2 separate regions of the Homo sapiens genome follow, and region 1 is linked to region 2. The links come from fine-mapping of genetic effects on gene expression. Tissue or cell type: prostate. Region 2 holds a variant in brackets; the other region holds the start of a gene. All regions are shown on one strand. Distances are between the middles of the regions.

Region 1 (6,444 bases), 400 kb after region 2:
TGTGCCTTTGGGGGCAGGAATGGCTCCCAGGGGCACCAAGACAGCAATCCCTTAGCTGGAGTGCCTGTGTCCAGGCTGCTGGCCTAGGGCCAAGCAGCCAATTCTGCTGACCCTGGACTTGCCTATGGGTATATTATCCCTGTTGAGGGTGAGGGCTTCTGCTGTGGAAAAGTCTGGGAAGCACTGCAGGCCTCTCTCGGCCTTGGACCCTTCCTTCAGACCCAAGGTGCATATATATACATATATATAATGGTAGATCACGAGGTCAGGAGATCAAGACCATCCTGGCCACATGGTGAAACCCCGTCTCTAGTAAAACACAAAAAATTAGCCGGGCATGCTGCCGCGTGCCTGTAGTCCCAGCTACTCGGGAGGCTGAGGCAGGAGAATGGTGTGAACCCAGGAGGTGGAGGTTGCAGTAAGCCAAGATCACGCCACTGCATTCCAGCCTGGCGACAGAGCAAGACTCCATCTTAAAATAAACAAATGAACAATATATATATATATGTATTTTGTTTTTTGAGACAGAGTCTCGCTCTGTCATCCAGGCTGGACTGCAGTGGTGCAATCTTGGCTCACTGCAACCTCCGCCTCCCGGGTTCAAGCGATTCCCCTGCCTCAGCCTCCTGAACAGCTGGGGTTACAGGTGCACGCCACCACACCTGGCGAATTTTTGTATGTTTAGTGGAGACGGGGTTTCACCATGTTAGCCAGGCTGGTCTCAAACCCCTGACCTCAGGTGATCTGCCCACCTCGGCCTCCCAAAGTGCTGGGATTACAGGCGTGAGCCAACGCGCCCAGCCCCAAGTCCCTTTTACCATAGAAAGTAACATAGTCACAGTGCCCAGGGATTCACAGGTATGGGGAGAGGGTTCGTTATTCAGCTGCCACACCCACCTTCCTAAACCTGCTGCCCTTCCAGTTTCCTCACGTGCACAGCCACGCCCGTCTGCTTTTAGTTTCTCAATCTGTTGGCTTAACCTTCAAAACAGGCCCAGGATTTGAGCACTTCTCACCATTCCCTCTGCCCCATCCCCATTCATCTCTTGCCTAGACTGCTACAGCAGCCTCTTTTACTGGTCCCCTGCATCCACCCTTGCCCTCTAAGGCAAGGGTCCCCAGTCCCTGGGCCAAGGACCAGTACCAGCCCCTCGCCTGCTAGGAACTGGGCCGCACAGCAAGAGATGAGCAGCGGGTAAGTGAGCATTACCGCCTGAGCTCCGCCTCCTGTCACATCAGCAGTGGCATTAGATTCTCATAGGAGGCAAACCCTATTGTGAACTGTGCGTGCGGGGGATCTAGGTTGCCTGCTCCTTATGAGAATCTAATGCCTGATGATCTCAGGTGGAACAGTTTCATCCCAAAACCATCCCCACCCCACCCCCGACCCCCAGTCTATGGAAAAATTGTCCTCCACGAAACCAGTCCCTGGTAACAAAACGGTTAGGGACCGCTGCTCTAAGGTACATTCTCCACCTGGCAGAAATAATCTTTACAAAATGTAAATCCGATTTTGACACTCCCTTCTTCCCACTGTGAATAGAATAAAACCCTACCAGGCCTGCACCGTCAGCCCCTGCCCACCTCTCAACCCAGTCTCCTATCTCTGTCTGCAAGCTGGTTCCCACCTCAAGGCCTCTCTGCTCTAGAGGCTACCTCTCCCTGCAGCGCTTTTCCCCTAGATCTTTGAATGGCTCTTTCCTTATCATTCACTTCTACTTCAATGTCACCTCTTCAGAGAGGCCTTTGCTGATGGCCCTACACCCAGTCACTTTTTTTTATCTGCTTCTCATCAAAATTGCCTTGCTGATTCCTTTGTTTCTTATTCATCCTCTCCCACATCCATCCTCTCCCAGCCCAGAATGTTGACTTCCTGAGAGAGGGACTGGGTCTGTCCTGCTCACCATGGTAACCTCGGCATCTAGAACAGTGCCTGCCATCACGTGGTAGGTGCTCAGTAAATATTCTTGGAACTAATGAATGAATAATTCTATCCACAAGACTTCACAATGGCTCTTCATGCTGCGATCTAGCTTTCAACTCCAAACTGGTCTTGAGATCTCACCTCAGTCTCTAACCTTGACATCTAACCTCTTCACCCACTCTCTTACCTGACCCTAATTTTTAAAAATGACGTGGTCAGCTTTTCAGCCCCCTCATTCCCTGTTTTTAGGAGGTAGTGAGTGGAAGCTGGAAGAATAAGAAAGCTTGGGGAGACTGCAATTGCAGTCAGGAAAGAAAGGTACTCTGCCGGGAAGAACACCCCATCTTCTCCTAGGGAAAGATTGTGGAGTCCTGGGGTTTGTTTTGTTTTTCAATTTTTTGTTTTAAGAGACAGCGTCTCGCTCTGTCACCCAGGCTGGAGTGCAGTGGCGCAATCACAGCTCACTGCAACTTCGACCTCCCCGGCTCAAGTGATCCCCCCGCCTCAGCCTCGTGAGTAGCTGGGACCACAGGCGTGCACCACCACGCCCGGCTAACATTTTATTTTTTGTGGATATAAGGTTGCCCTATTTCTTTGTGGAGATAAAGGCTCCCCTATGTTGCCCAGGCTGGTCTCGAACTCCTGGCTTCAAGCGATGCTTTCGCCTCGGCCTCCACAAAGTGCTGGGTTCACAGGTGCGTGAGCCCGACCTGTGTCTCGTTTTGAAGCTCAGGGAGAGGGCGCTGTGAGCAATCCCTAAACCCTTTAAGAGTAAAAAGTGCGTGCACCTTTAAGAGGACGGTTAGAAAACGCGGGGCGTGGCCACAGGAGAATAAGTTCGCGCTGAACCAGGAGCGTGGGATAAGACCGGCCCCTTCCGGTTACGAAACCTTAGCAAGATGGCGGCTCCCTGGGCGGTAAGTGACCGGAGTTCCTAGAGCCCCAAATTTGAAGTCCGCTCTACAGCCTCCGCATTCAGGGCCTCTGTTGGCGGCCACGAGAGCAGAAAGCCGTGAGGCAGCAGGCTAAGCCTGGCAAGCCCCGTACTGGGAGTGCAAACCTGTGGCTAGTGGGGGCCAGGAAGGATCTGTGAGGGTCGCAGGCGGAGGAGACGCTTTAGCGAGCGAGAGGAGGCAGGGACTTGGCTGAGAGTATCCAATGGGGATGAGGGAGTGGCTGCCGAAGAGCGACGCGACTAACCAATCAGAGGGAGGGATGACACAAGGAGCTAATGGACAGGCAAGGGTGGGGCCTGTAGGATAAGAGAGCTTGGAAGGGATTGTTCGAGGATGTGGGATTTGGTCTTAGAAGACCGAAGGATGAATGTAAGGAAAGTTAGTGGGAGATTGACGAATTTTTACAGAAAACTCAAAAGCATGATGGGTGGGGGAACCAAGAGGTCAATTTGGAGGTTCTAAGGGCATGATCTGGGTGAAATTAAGAGGAGAATTTGAGATATTCTTTCAGAGGATTTAAAATCAAGGAATGAATTTAGGGAAAATTAAAGAGGTTGGCAGCTTTAAACTTTTGAGGAAAATAAGGGTTTGGGTAAAATTATCGAGATAATTTGAAAAAAAAAAAGAATTTGGTTAAAGCAAAGAGAAATTGGGGTAGATTAAGAGGAGACCTTGAAAGCAAAATTGAAGAGTTTGGGGGCTTCTTCCCATTGGCCACACCCCTCGACTTTCTTACTCTCCTCTTCAAAGCTCATGCTTTTTATACCCTTCTCGGTTCAGGGGTGTCCAATCTTTTGGCTTCCCTGGGCCACGCTGTTCGAAGAAGAAGAATTGTCTTGGGCCACACATAAAATACACTAACCATAACTGATGAGCCAAAAAAAAAAAAAAAAAAATCACAAAAATATCCTCCTAATGTTTTAAGAAAGTTTGCATGTTTGTGTTGGGCTGCATGCAGGCGGCGGGTTGGACAAGCTTGGTTGGTTTTAGGGATTGCTCAGAGCACCCTCTCCTTGAGGTTTGGAGATAAGTTTTTAAGATTATATTCTGGGGAAAGAAAGAAGTCATTTGGGAAGACCCCAGCAGAAGAATTGGGTAATTAAGGGGCAAATCTGTGGAAAATTAAGAGGTCAAATAATGCAGGTTTTGAGTGATAAGGGTTTGGGGGAAAGTTAGAGGAAGAATTTAGGAAAATCAACAATATATGGCTAGTCGAGAAAATTTAGGGTTCACTAAGGGGAGGAGGAACTTGGAAAAAACATGGGGAAATTTTTGGAATCTCAAAGACAGTTTTGAAGTTTTGAAGGAAGAACTTAGGGTGAGTTGGGAAGCAGAGGGATTGAGGTTCATGGAGCAAGAACTGGGGGATCCAGCTCTGTGTCTCCCAGGAGGCTCCAGGCTCAGCTCCTTTCCTCTCCCCCTCCCCAGTCCCTGCGCCTGGTCGCCCCCATGTGGAATGGGCGTATCAGGGGCATCCATCGCCTGGGTGCGGCAGTGGCCCCAGAGGGCAATCAGAAGAAGAAAAGGACAATACTCCAGTTCCTGACCAACTATTTCTACGATGTGGAGGCTCTGAGGGATTACTTGCTCCAAAGGGAGATGTACAAGGTGCATGAGAAAAATCGGTGAGAATCCCTGGTCTGCAAGACCCTGTGGAGACCCTGGCCCACCAGAGCCCAGGTCCTGTCCTTGCCATTCCCAGGCAGCACTGTGGCTTCCAGTGCCAGCCTTGATGTCTCTTGCAGCTCCATCTCCAGGCTGTACCCTTCTCAAGGACTCCAGCTCACATAGGCAGTTTGCCACCCACCAGCTCCACTCAGAGTCTAACTGGCATCTCAAACCTAACATGGCTAAAGCCAAACCCTGATTTCTCCCCTAAAAACATCTGCTCACTCCCAAGCCTTCCCATCCCAGTAAACACTGGTGCTGCCCACCCAGTTGTTCAGGCCAAATTCTAAGGAGTCATCCCTAATTCCTCTCTTTGCTTCCCTGCCCTCCACATCCAGACCATCAATAAAATACTAGAATATCTCAGATTTGACCAGTTCTCACTGCCTTCACCATTCGTAGCCTGATCCCTTATAGTTGAATCACTCAATAAGCTAACTGGGTTTTTGTTCCCATACTCTTTTTTTTTTTTTTCTGAGATGGAGTCTTGCTCTGTCTCCCAGCCTGGAGTGTAGTGGCGCAATCTAAGCTCACTGCAACCTCCACCTCCCAGGTTCAAGCAATTCTCCTGCCTCCGCCTCCCAAGTAGCTGGGATTACAGGCGCCCGCCACCAGGCCCAGCTAATTTTTGTATTTTTAGTAGAGATGGGTTTTCACCATGTTAGCGAGGCTGCTCTCGAACTCCTGACCTCAGGTGATCCGCCTGCCTCGGTCTCCCAGAGTGCTGGGATTACAGGCATGAGCCACCACACCCCGCCAAAATTTGTTTTGTTTTGTTTGAGACAGAGTCTCACTCTGTCGCACATGCTGGAGTACAGTGGTGTGATCATGGCTCATTGCAATCTCCACCTCCTGGGTTCAAGCGATTCTCCCGCCTCAGCCTCCCAAGTAGGTGAGATTACAGGCAGGCGCCACCACACCTAATTTTTCTATTTTTAGTAGAGATGGGGTTTCACCATGTTGGCCAGGCTGGTCTCGAAATCCTGACCTCAGATGATCCACCTGCCTCGGCCTTCCAAAGTGCTGGGATTACAGGCGTGAGCCACCACACCTGGCCTGTCCCATAGTTTTTTATAATCTACAAAGCAGCTGAAGGAATCTTATCATCACCAGCTCAAAACCTTCAAATAAGAGCCAATCTCCAAGGCCTAAAACATAGCTCCTACTGAGCTTTGAGACCCCCTATCAGGACTCCACTGGCCCCTTCAGCATGACATCCCTATTTCTTATTTATTCAACCATCCTAATTCAAGTCTCTGAGCCTTTATACTCTGTTCCTTCTCACCACTCAAATCCCTGCTCAAATGTCACCTCCTCCAATTAACACCCAAACTCAGTTAGCCTCCACCATCCCCACTCCTCTGCTCCCTAGCCCTCACAGTCAGCCTCTCTGCTTTGTTTGGTCATGGAATTGACATTCTCTGCAGTTTGCTGTTATTTCCTGGGTTGTTATCTGTTTCTCCCTGTATAATAGCTTGGATTACTGCAGTAATCTCCAGACTGGGCAGGGATGTTATCTGCCTTGGTCACCACTTTGCCCCCAGTGCCCAGCACTTAGGAGGTGGGCAATAAATATTTTCAGCCTGACTGAATCTGTCTGTGTGCCTGGTTCTCTGGACTCTGCCCCTCTTAACAGCACTGGGGCATCGTGAGGGCTGTGGTGCTCCCCAGGCCTCACCCTTAGCTACCATTTTCTCTGCAGATCTTACACCTGGCTGGAGAAGCAACATGGTCCATACGGCGCAGGTGCCTTTTTCATCCTGAAGCAGGGAGGCGCAGTCAAGTATGACCGCTAAGGTGTTAGAACGGGCTGGGGCAGGTGGTGGGGTATCTCTCTAACATCCAGGTTCTGCAGTCACACAGGCTTCAGAGTCCCCTGGTCTCTGCCGCCTCCTG
Region 2 (7,511 bases):
TTTACCCCATGACATTTCTCAGGTATCTTCCTTCTTCAGAAACCCCTCTCCTCTTCCTCTTCTGTGTTCTTTCTTTTTTTTTTTTTTTTTTTTTGAGATGGAGTCTCACTCTGTCTCCCAGGCTGGAGTGCAGTGGCACGATCTTGGCTTGCTGCAACCTCCACCTCCCGGGTTCAAGCGATTCTCCTGCCTCAGCCTCCTGAGTAGCTGGGATTACAGGCAAGAGCCACCATGCCCGGCTATTTTTTTTTATTTTTGTATGTTTAGTAGAGATGGTGTTTCACCATGTTGGCCAGGCTGGTCTCGAACTCCTGGCCTCAAGTGATCTGCCTGTCTCGGCCTCCCAAAGTGCTGGAATTACAGCCATGAGCCACTGCACCCGTCCCCCCTTTTTTTAATTTAAAAATTTTTAGGCCGGGTGCGGTGGCTCAAGCCTATAATCCCAGCACTTTGGGAGGCCAAGGCGGGTGGATCACAAGGTCAGGAGATCGAGACCATCCTGGCTAACACAGTGAAACCCTGTCTCTACTAAAAATACAAAAAATTAGCTGGGCGTGGTGGCGGGTGCCTGTAGTCCCAGCTACTCCAGAGGCTGAGGCAGGAGAATGGCGTGAACCCGGGAGGCAGAGCTGGCAGTGAGCCATGATCGCGCCACTGCACTTTAGCCTGGGTGACGGAGCAAGACTCTGTCTCAAAAAAAAAATTTTTTTTTAATTGTTTTTTATTTTTATAGAGACAAGGTCTCATTATGTTTCCCAGGCTGGTCTGGTCTCGAACTCCTGGGCTCAAGCGATCCTCCTGCCTTGGCCTCCCACAGTGCTAGGATCAGAGGCATGAGCTGCTGCGCCCGACATTCTGTATTCTTTCAATTCAAACATTCTTTTCTTTCAATCCAAACACTTTCCCACCCACACACACATCCTAGGTTCCAACCTACTCATGTCCTCACATACCCCTTCAGCGAGTCCTACATCCCCTTTTCACAAGCACCCTGTTCCGTCCCAACAGTGTTTCCTGGCATCCTCTTCAACAATGCTCACCCCACTCTCATGCATTCATCCAATGCCTACCAGTAGTTTTATGCCCCTTTCAATTCTTAGTTCAATTTCAATTCTTAGTCTCATCTATGCCCTGCAAAGCAACTGCCTCCTTGCATTCCTTTAGTCTTATTTTGTTCTTGTACCCCTTTAAATCAGAACCCTCTCTTGCACCCCCAATAATTACCTTATTCTCATGGATTCCCTGCTCCACTTTCTTTTTTTTTTTATTGACAGGGTCTCGCTCTGTTGCCCAGGCTGGAGCGCAGTGGCGTGATCATGGCTCACTGCAGCCTCCACCTCCTGAGCTCAAGCAATCCTCCTGCCGCAGCCTCCCCAGTAGCTGGGACTACAGGCTGGAGCCACTATGCTTGGCTCCCCTGTCCCACTTTCTTTCTTTCTTTTTTTTTGTTTTGAGATGGAGTCTCACTCTGTAGCCCAGGCTGTAGTGCAGTAGTGCAATCCCGGCTCACTGCAACCTCCGCCTCCTGGGTTCAAGCAATTCTCCTGCCTCAGCCTCCCGAGTACCTGGGATTACAGGCCTGTGCCACCACGCCCGTCTAATTTTTGTATTTTTAGTAGAGATGGGGTTTCACCATGTTGGCCAGGCTGGTCTTGAACTCCTGACCTGCCTCAAGCGACCTGCCTGCTTCGGCCTCCCAAAGTGTTGGGATTACAGGCATGAGCCACCGCACCCGCCACCTGCCCCACTTTCAAGTTATTTTCCTTCACTCCTTCATTCATTCCACAAATGGTTACTGAGCCCCTGTCATGTGCTAGGCCCTGATCTGGGCCAAAAACCTTCTCCTTGGGGCACTAATGTCTCTCTTGCGCTCACACCTTATTCAGGTTTTTGTGTAAACATGTGAAGTCACTGTGTCCAGCGCTTCCTGCTCCTGTGGCCACTACCAACAATTAATTTCATGCATGTCCCCCTCCCCCCTTCCCGTGCCCCAGGGAGCGAGTGGGGAACCGGGAACGCGCCAAGGGGCCCGCGAGGCAGGGAAGGGGAGAGGGGGCGCGAGGGCGGGAGGGGCGCGAGGGGGAGGAGAGGGGATGCCTGGGTTAGGGAGTCCGGCTAAGAGGGAGGAGGACGGAAAGGCAGGAGGGACCGTGTTCGTGCAGCTAGTTCACGGTTACCACAGCCTCCAATGGAGTCAGATTCAGTCAAGAAGACGCCCAAAGACACTGTGAGAAAGTGGCCAGAGGAACCGCCAAGCTCGCGCTGCTTTTCTTACCCTGTCTCACAAAGACCAATGAACTTCAAGCATCGCCTCTCTCAGCCGAGGCAGACGACCAATGCGGTTTGAGATCCTGAACTGATGTCCCGCCCCTTCCCTTCTGCCAGCTTCTTGGCGCACAAGACTATCAGTCCCACCAATAGCGCTTCGAGTTGAGCCTCGCGCCACCGCTGCCTCTCCCTCCGCACGTCCTGCCCGCCCAGACTGTCTTCCCCCTTTCGAGGCAGGTGGCCAATGGGGCGTCGAGTACCCCTTATTGGACCGAGGCTGGCCCCGCCCCCCAGGAACGGCCCGCCTGGCCCCGCCCCTGGGGCGTTGACCAAGCCCGGTCTGTGCACGGGTTGCCTCGTTTCTGGCCTTCCCTTGCCTTGTACCTCGACTTCGCGCGTGGCTTGTTTTTGCTGAGTGGAGGCCTGCGTTTTCTGTTATGTCTCTTCCGGTGCCCCACAACTCCTGAGCTACCCTTCTTTTATGCGTTCTCTCCCAGCGCTGTGATTACCGGGTTGCTTACCGGGCCCTCCTTCCTCAGATTGCACCCCTTTCCTTGTGTCTCTTCTTGTCTTTGTGTCGGTTGTGATTTTCCTAATCTCTGATTTTCCTTTTCTCTCGGACGCTCTCCCTCTTCGGACCCATTTTCTCCCGTGCTTCATGCCCTGATAGCCTGGCCCCTTCCCGGCTTCCTTCGCTACCGGGGACGCCTCTAGTTTTTCTGAATTTCTGGCTGGCTCCACCCTCCGCGTTCATCTTCCTCAAGAGTTCGCCCCTCTGGGGGCTCCTCTGTGTAATCGTCGCCTTCTCTGGGTATTTCTGTGAACTCCGTCTCACACCATCCCGCCATCTTCTCTGCCTTGGCCCCTTTTCTCTGTACAGCCAGCTCTGTGTCCTTTTCTTCTCCCCCTCTAAAATCGACTCCTCTTCTCCCTGAGAGCCCCACCTTTGTGCCCCACTCCTCATTTTCCTACGCCTCCCTCTCTCTGCTGGTCCTCTCTCTCCCTGCAAGGTTCCATTCCATCAATTTGTTTGTCTTTTGTAGGGGTGGCATCCCCTCTGACTACTGCTCCATCCTTTTTTTTTTTTTTTTTTTTTTTTTTTTTGCTTGAGGATTTCACTTCAATCTTTTCTGGTTGCGTCTCCACTTGTACTCAGCTTGTTAGGTCCAGGTCCAGTTGTTCTGCATCTGAGGCTGGCGTGTGCTGTCTTCTCTGATTGGCCTAATCTCCCTCACCCCCGTGAGATCTGTTGTCAGCCTTCGTTTCTCTTTCCTGTGTCCCAGCTTTTCTGCGGGTCTTGGCACCTTTCTTGGCCACAGATTTCTGGGTTACAGAGCATGTGTGTCTGAGGCATTGCAGGCAGAAAAGGGTGGCCGACGTGACCTCTAGCTGGACTGCTGGGCAGGGGAGCTGTCCTA[G/C]ATAAAATTGGAAAGGTTGGGTGGCGCTTATCTGGGGTGGGGTGGGGTGTGGTCGGGGGAGGCTTAAAGGCCAGCTAAAGAGGTTGAACTTGATCCTTTAGGTAGTGGAGAGAGAGTGAGAGGAAGTGTGTGTGGGAGGGAGGGATAGTGGTAGAGGAACAGGGTAACCAACGATTATAAAGAGCTTAGCATTTGCCTAATACTTATGGTAATAATTTTATTGATCTTCACAATGACCCTATGAGATGTATTATACTTCATTTTATAAAGAAGGTAGTAGGCTCTGAGTTCAACAAATTGGACAGCTAGTAAATGAAGGGGTAAAGATTCCAACCTGGGTCTCTGAGGCCAAGGTCAGTGATCTTTGTACCCCCTCCTACACTGTTATTTTCCACCAATTCCCCACTTTCATTCCCTAACCTTCTTATAGGCAATTCTCATTCTAAGGTGGTTAATATGTATCTTTTGGTTTGTGTGTGTGTTCTCCCAGGATGTGTGTAGTGTTGTTGTTGGGGTTTTTTTTTTTTTTTTTTTTTTTTTTTTTTTTTTTTTTTTTTTTTAGCGATGGGGTTTTGCCATATTAACCAGGCTGGTCCAGAACTCCTGGCCTGAAGTGATCTGTCTGCCTTGGCCTCCCAAAGTGCTGGGATCACAGGCATGAACGACCACACCCGACCTCTGTTTGAGTTTTTAATTTATGCAAGTGATATTATGTTATATACTATTTGTAATAATCAGCACTGTGATTTTACAATCTATCCATGTACACATTCTGTCATTCTGTCATGATGTGTACTTTTTTTTTTTTTTTTTTTTTTTTTTTTTTTTGTTTAGACGGAGTTTCACTCTTATTGCCCAGGCTGGAGTGCAATGGTGTGATCTTGGCTTACTGCACCCTCCACCTCCTGGGTTCAAGCAATTCTTCTGCTGCCACAGCCTCTTGAGTAGCTGGGATTACAGGCTCCCACCACCACACTCGACTAATTTTTGTATTTTTAGTAGAGTCAGGATTTTGCCATGTTGACCAGCTTGGTCTTGAACTCCTGACCTCAGGTGATCCGCCCACCTCAGCCTCCCGAAGTGCTGGGATTACAGGCGTGAGCCACTGTACCCTGCCTCACATCCTGTGTACATCTAATCAACTTCTTCCAACTCCTGCGTGATATTCCATAGCGTACATCCCCAGCATGTTTTGCATTCACTTGGTCTCAGAGAGGGAAGCTCCCATTGTCTCAACCTACCATCACCACAATAATGCTGCATTCTCTGGGCATGGGAGCTCATGCCTGTAATCCCAGCACTTTGGGAGGCCGAGGTGGGTGGATTGCTTGAGCCCAGGAGTTTGATAACAGCTGGGGCAACATGGAAAAACTCCATCTCTACAAAGCTGGGTGTGTTGGCGCACACCTGTAGTCCCAGCTATTTGGGTGGCCGAGGTGAGAGGATTGCATGAGCCTGGCAGGTGGGGGCTGCAGTGAGCACAGCTGTCCTCCAGCCTGGGCAACAGAGCGAGACCCAGTCTCAGAAAAAAAAAATGCTGCATTATTGTGCATGTTCCTTTGTAGATGAAGGTGGACATTTTTGTAATACCTATGTAGGGTATACTGGAAATGGGTATTTATAAACCCAATTTGACCATGTAGTGTCAGACCCCTGCAATGCTGCTTTGGGCCTGAGATCCTGGTCAGAACTCTCAACTCCTTTGTTTCTCAGAGTCCAGAAATAGTGTTTTATTCCCCAGCCCTCCAAATAATGCCATGAGCATCAGGGGCCAAGGGTTCCTTTATCCCCACATACCTGCCAACACTTGTCTTTTCCCAGCTTTCTGATCCTTACCAGTCTGATAGATGTACAATTTGACAGATTGCATTTCCTTGGTTATTGCTGGGTTTGTGCATTTCTTCACTTTTTTTTTTTTTTTTTTTTTGAGACAGGGTCTTGTTCTATTGCCCAGGCTGGAGTGCAGTGGCATGATCTCGGCTCACTGCAACCTCTGGCTTCCGGGTTCAAGTGATCCTCCCTCCTCAGCCTCCCTAGTAGCTGGGACTGCAGGCACGTACCACCACACCGGGCTAATTTTTGTATTTGTAGTAGAGACAGTGTTTCACCTTGTTGGCCAGGCTGGTCGCGAACTCCTGACCTTGTGATTTGAGGCTAAAGCAATCCTTCAACATTAGCCTCCTGAGTAGCTGGGACTACAGGCACTCCCATGCTTGGCTAATTTTTAAACTTTTTTTTTTTTTTGGTATAGACAAGGTGTTGCCCAGGCTGGTCTCAAATTGCTGACCTCGAGCAGTCCTGGCTCAGCCTCCCAAAGCACTGGAATTACCGGCATAAGCCACTGTGTTGCCCAGGCTGGTCTTGAACTCCTGACCTCAAGGGATCCTCCTGGCTCAGCCTCCCAAAGCACTGGGATTAGAGGCATGAGCCACTGTGCCGGCCTGCATCTTCTCCCTTGATCAGATTTGCCAGCGAACTAACTAAATCTTTTCATAGAATGGATCTTTTTTGTAATAATGTTTGTTGTTGTTTACTATTTCATTGATTTCTGCTATCATCCTTATTTCCATTCTTTTTTGGGTAGGAGAGAATTGCTTTGTTGCTCCTTATACAATTTCTTGAACTAGTTCATGAATATATTTATTTTTTAATGCTTCACATTTCCTGATACATGTATTTAAAAGTATAAATTTACTTCTAAATACTGCTTTAGCTGTGTCTCAAATTTTGATGTATATATTTTATTTTATTTTTTTTTTTTTTGAGACGGAGTTTCGCTCTGTCGTCCAGGCTGGAGTGCAGCGTCGCAATCTTGGCTCACTGCAAGCTCCGCCTCCCGGGTTCACACCATTCTCCTGCCTCAGCCTCCCAAGTAGTTGGGACTACAGGCGTCCACGACCATGCCTGGCTAATTTTTTTGTGTTTTTAGAGATGGGGTTTCACCGTGTTAGCCAGGATGGTCTTGATCTCCTGACCTCGTGATCTGCCTGCCTCGGCCTCCCAAAGTGCTGGGATTACAGGCGGGAGATACTGTGCCCGGCTGTATATATTTTAAAAACCCTTTAATTTTGAAATGATTGTTGGCTCACAGGAAGTTGCAAAAGTGGTACATAGAGTCCCTTGGATCCTTCCTCCAGTTTCCCTGTAGGGGCATCTTATATAACCATAGTATATGAGCAGGAAATTGACATTTGTACAATACTGTTTGTACAGTCATAGCTCACTGCAACCTCCATCCCCGGGGCTCAAGTGGTCCTCCCACCTCAGCCTCCCAAGTAGCTGGGACCACAGGTGCATGCCACCATGCCTGGCCAATTTTTGTATTTTTTGTAGAGATGGCATTTTGTCGTGATGCCTGGGCTGGTGTACAGTACTCTTACCTAGACTTCAGACCTTATTCAGTTTACAGCAGATTTTACATGCACTTATGTGTGTGTGTGTGTGTGTATGTGTGTGTCTGTCTGTGTCTATGTCTGTGTGTGAATGTGTGTGTTATGTAATATGTTTATTATTATTCAGTTCTAAATACTTTTTTTTTTTTTGAAATGGAGTCTCTGTCTCTGTTGCCCAGCCTGGAGTGCAGTGGCGCGATCTCGGTTCACTGCAACCTCCGCCTCCTGGGTTCAAGCGATTCTCATGCTTCAGCCTCCTGAGTAGCTGGGACTATAGGCTCGTGCCACCACCCCTGGCTAATTTATATTTTTTAGTAGAGATGGGGTTTTACCATTTTGGCAGGCTGGTCTTGGACTCCTGACCTCTGGTGATCCACCTGCCTTAGCCTCCCAAAGTGATGGGATTACAGGCGTGAGCCACTGCTCCTGACCT

Evidence for each region. PIP is the estimated chance that this variant, and not a neighbour inherited with it, causes the effect.
Region 1: DMAC2 starts here. The variant in region 2 is fine-mapped to the expression of DMAC2 in prostate (GTEx, PIP above 0.99).

What each region holds. Positions count from the first base shown.
Region 1 is chr19:41,436,279-41,442,722 of GRCh38, reverse strand. It overlaps DMAC2 (distal membrane arm assembly component 2), which reads left to right and starts at 2,811. Exons shown (of 6, transcript NM_018035.3): 1 at 2,811-2,841; 2 at 4,309-4,505; 3 at 6,251-6,331. The coding sequence starts at 2,824. RefSeq lists an enhancer at 2,907-3,076.
Region 2 is chr19:41,839,768-41,847,278 of GRCh38, reverse strand. It overlaps LYPD4 (LY6/PLAUR domain containing 4), which reads left to right and starts at 2,596. Exons shown (of 5, transcript NM_173506.7): 1 at 2,596-3,701. It overlaps DMRTC2 (DMRT like family C2), which reads right to left and starts at 2,237. Exons shown (of 9, transcript NM_001040283.3): 1 at 2,178-2,237. The variant G/C (reference allele first, on the strand shown) is at 3,687.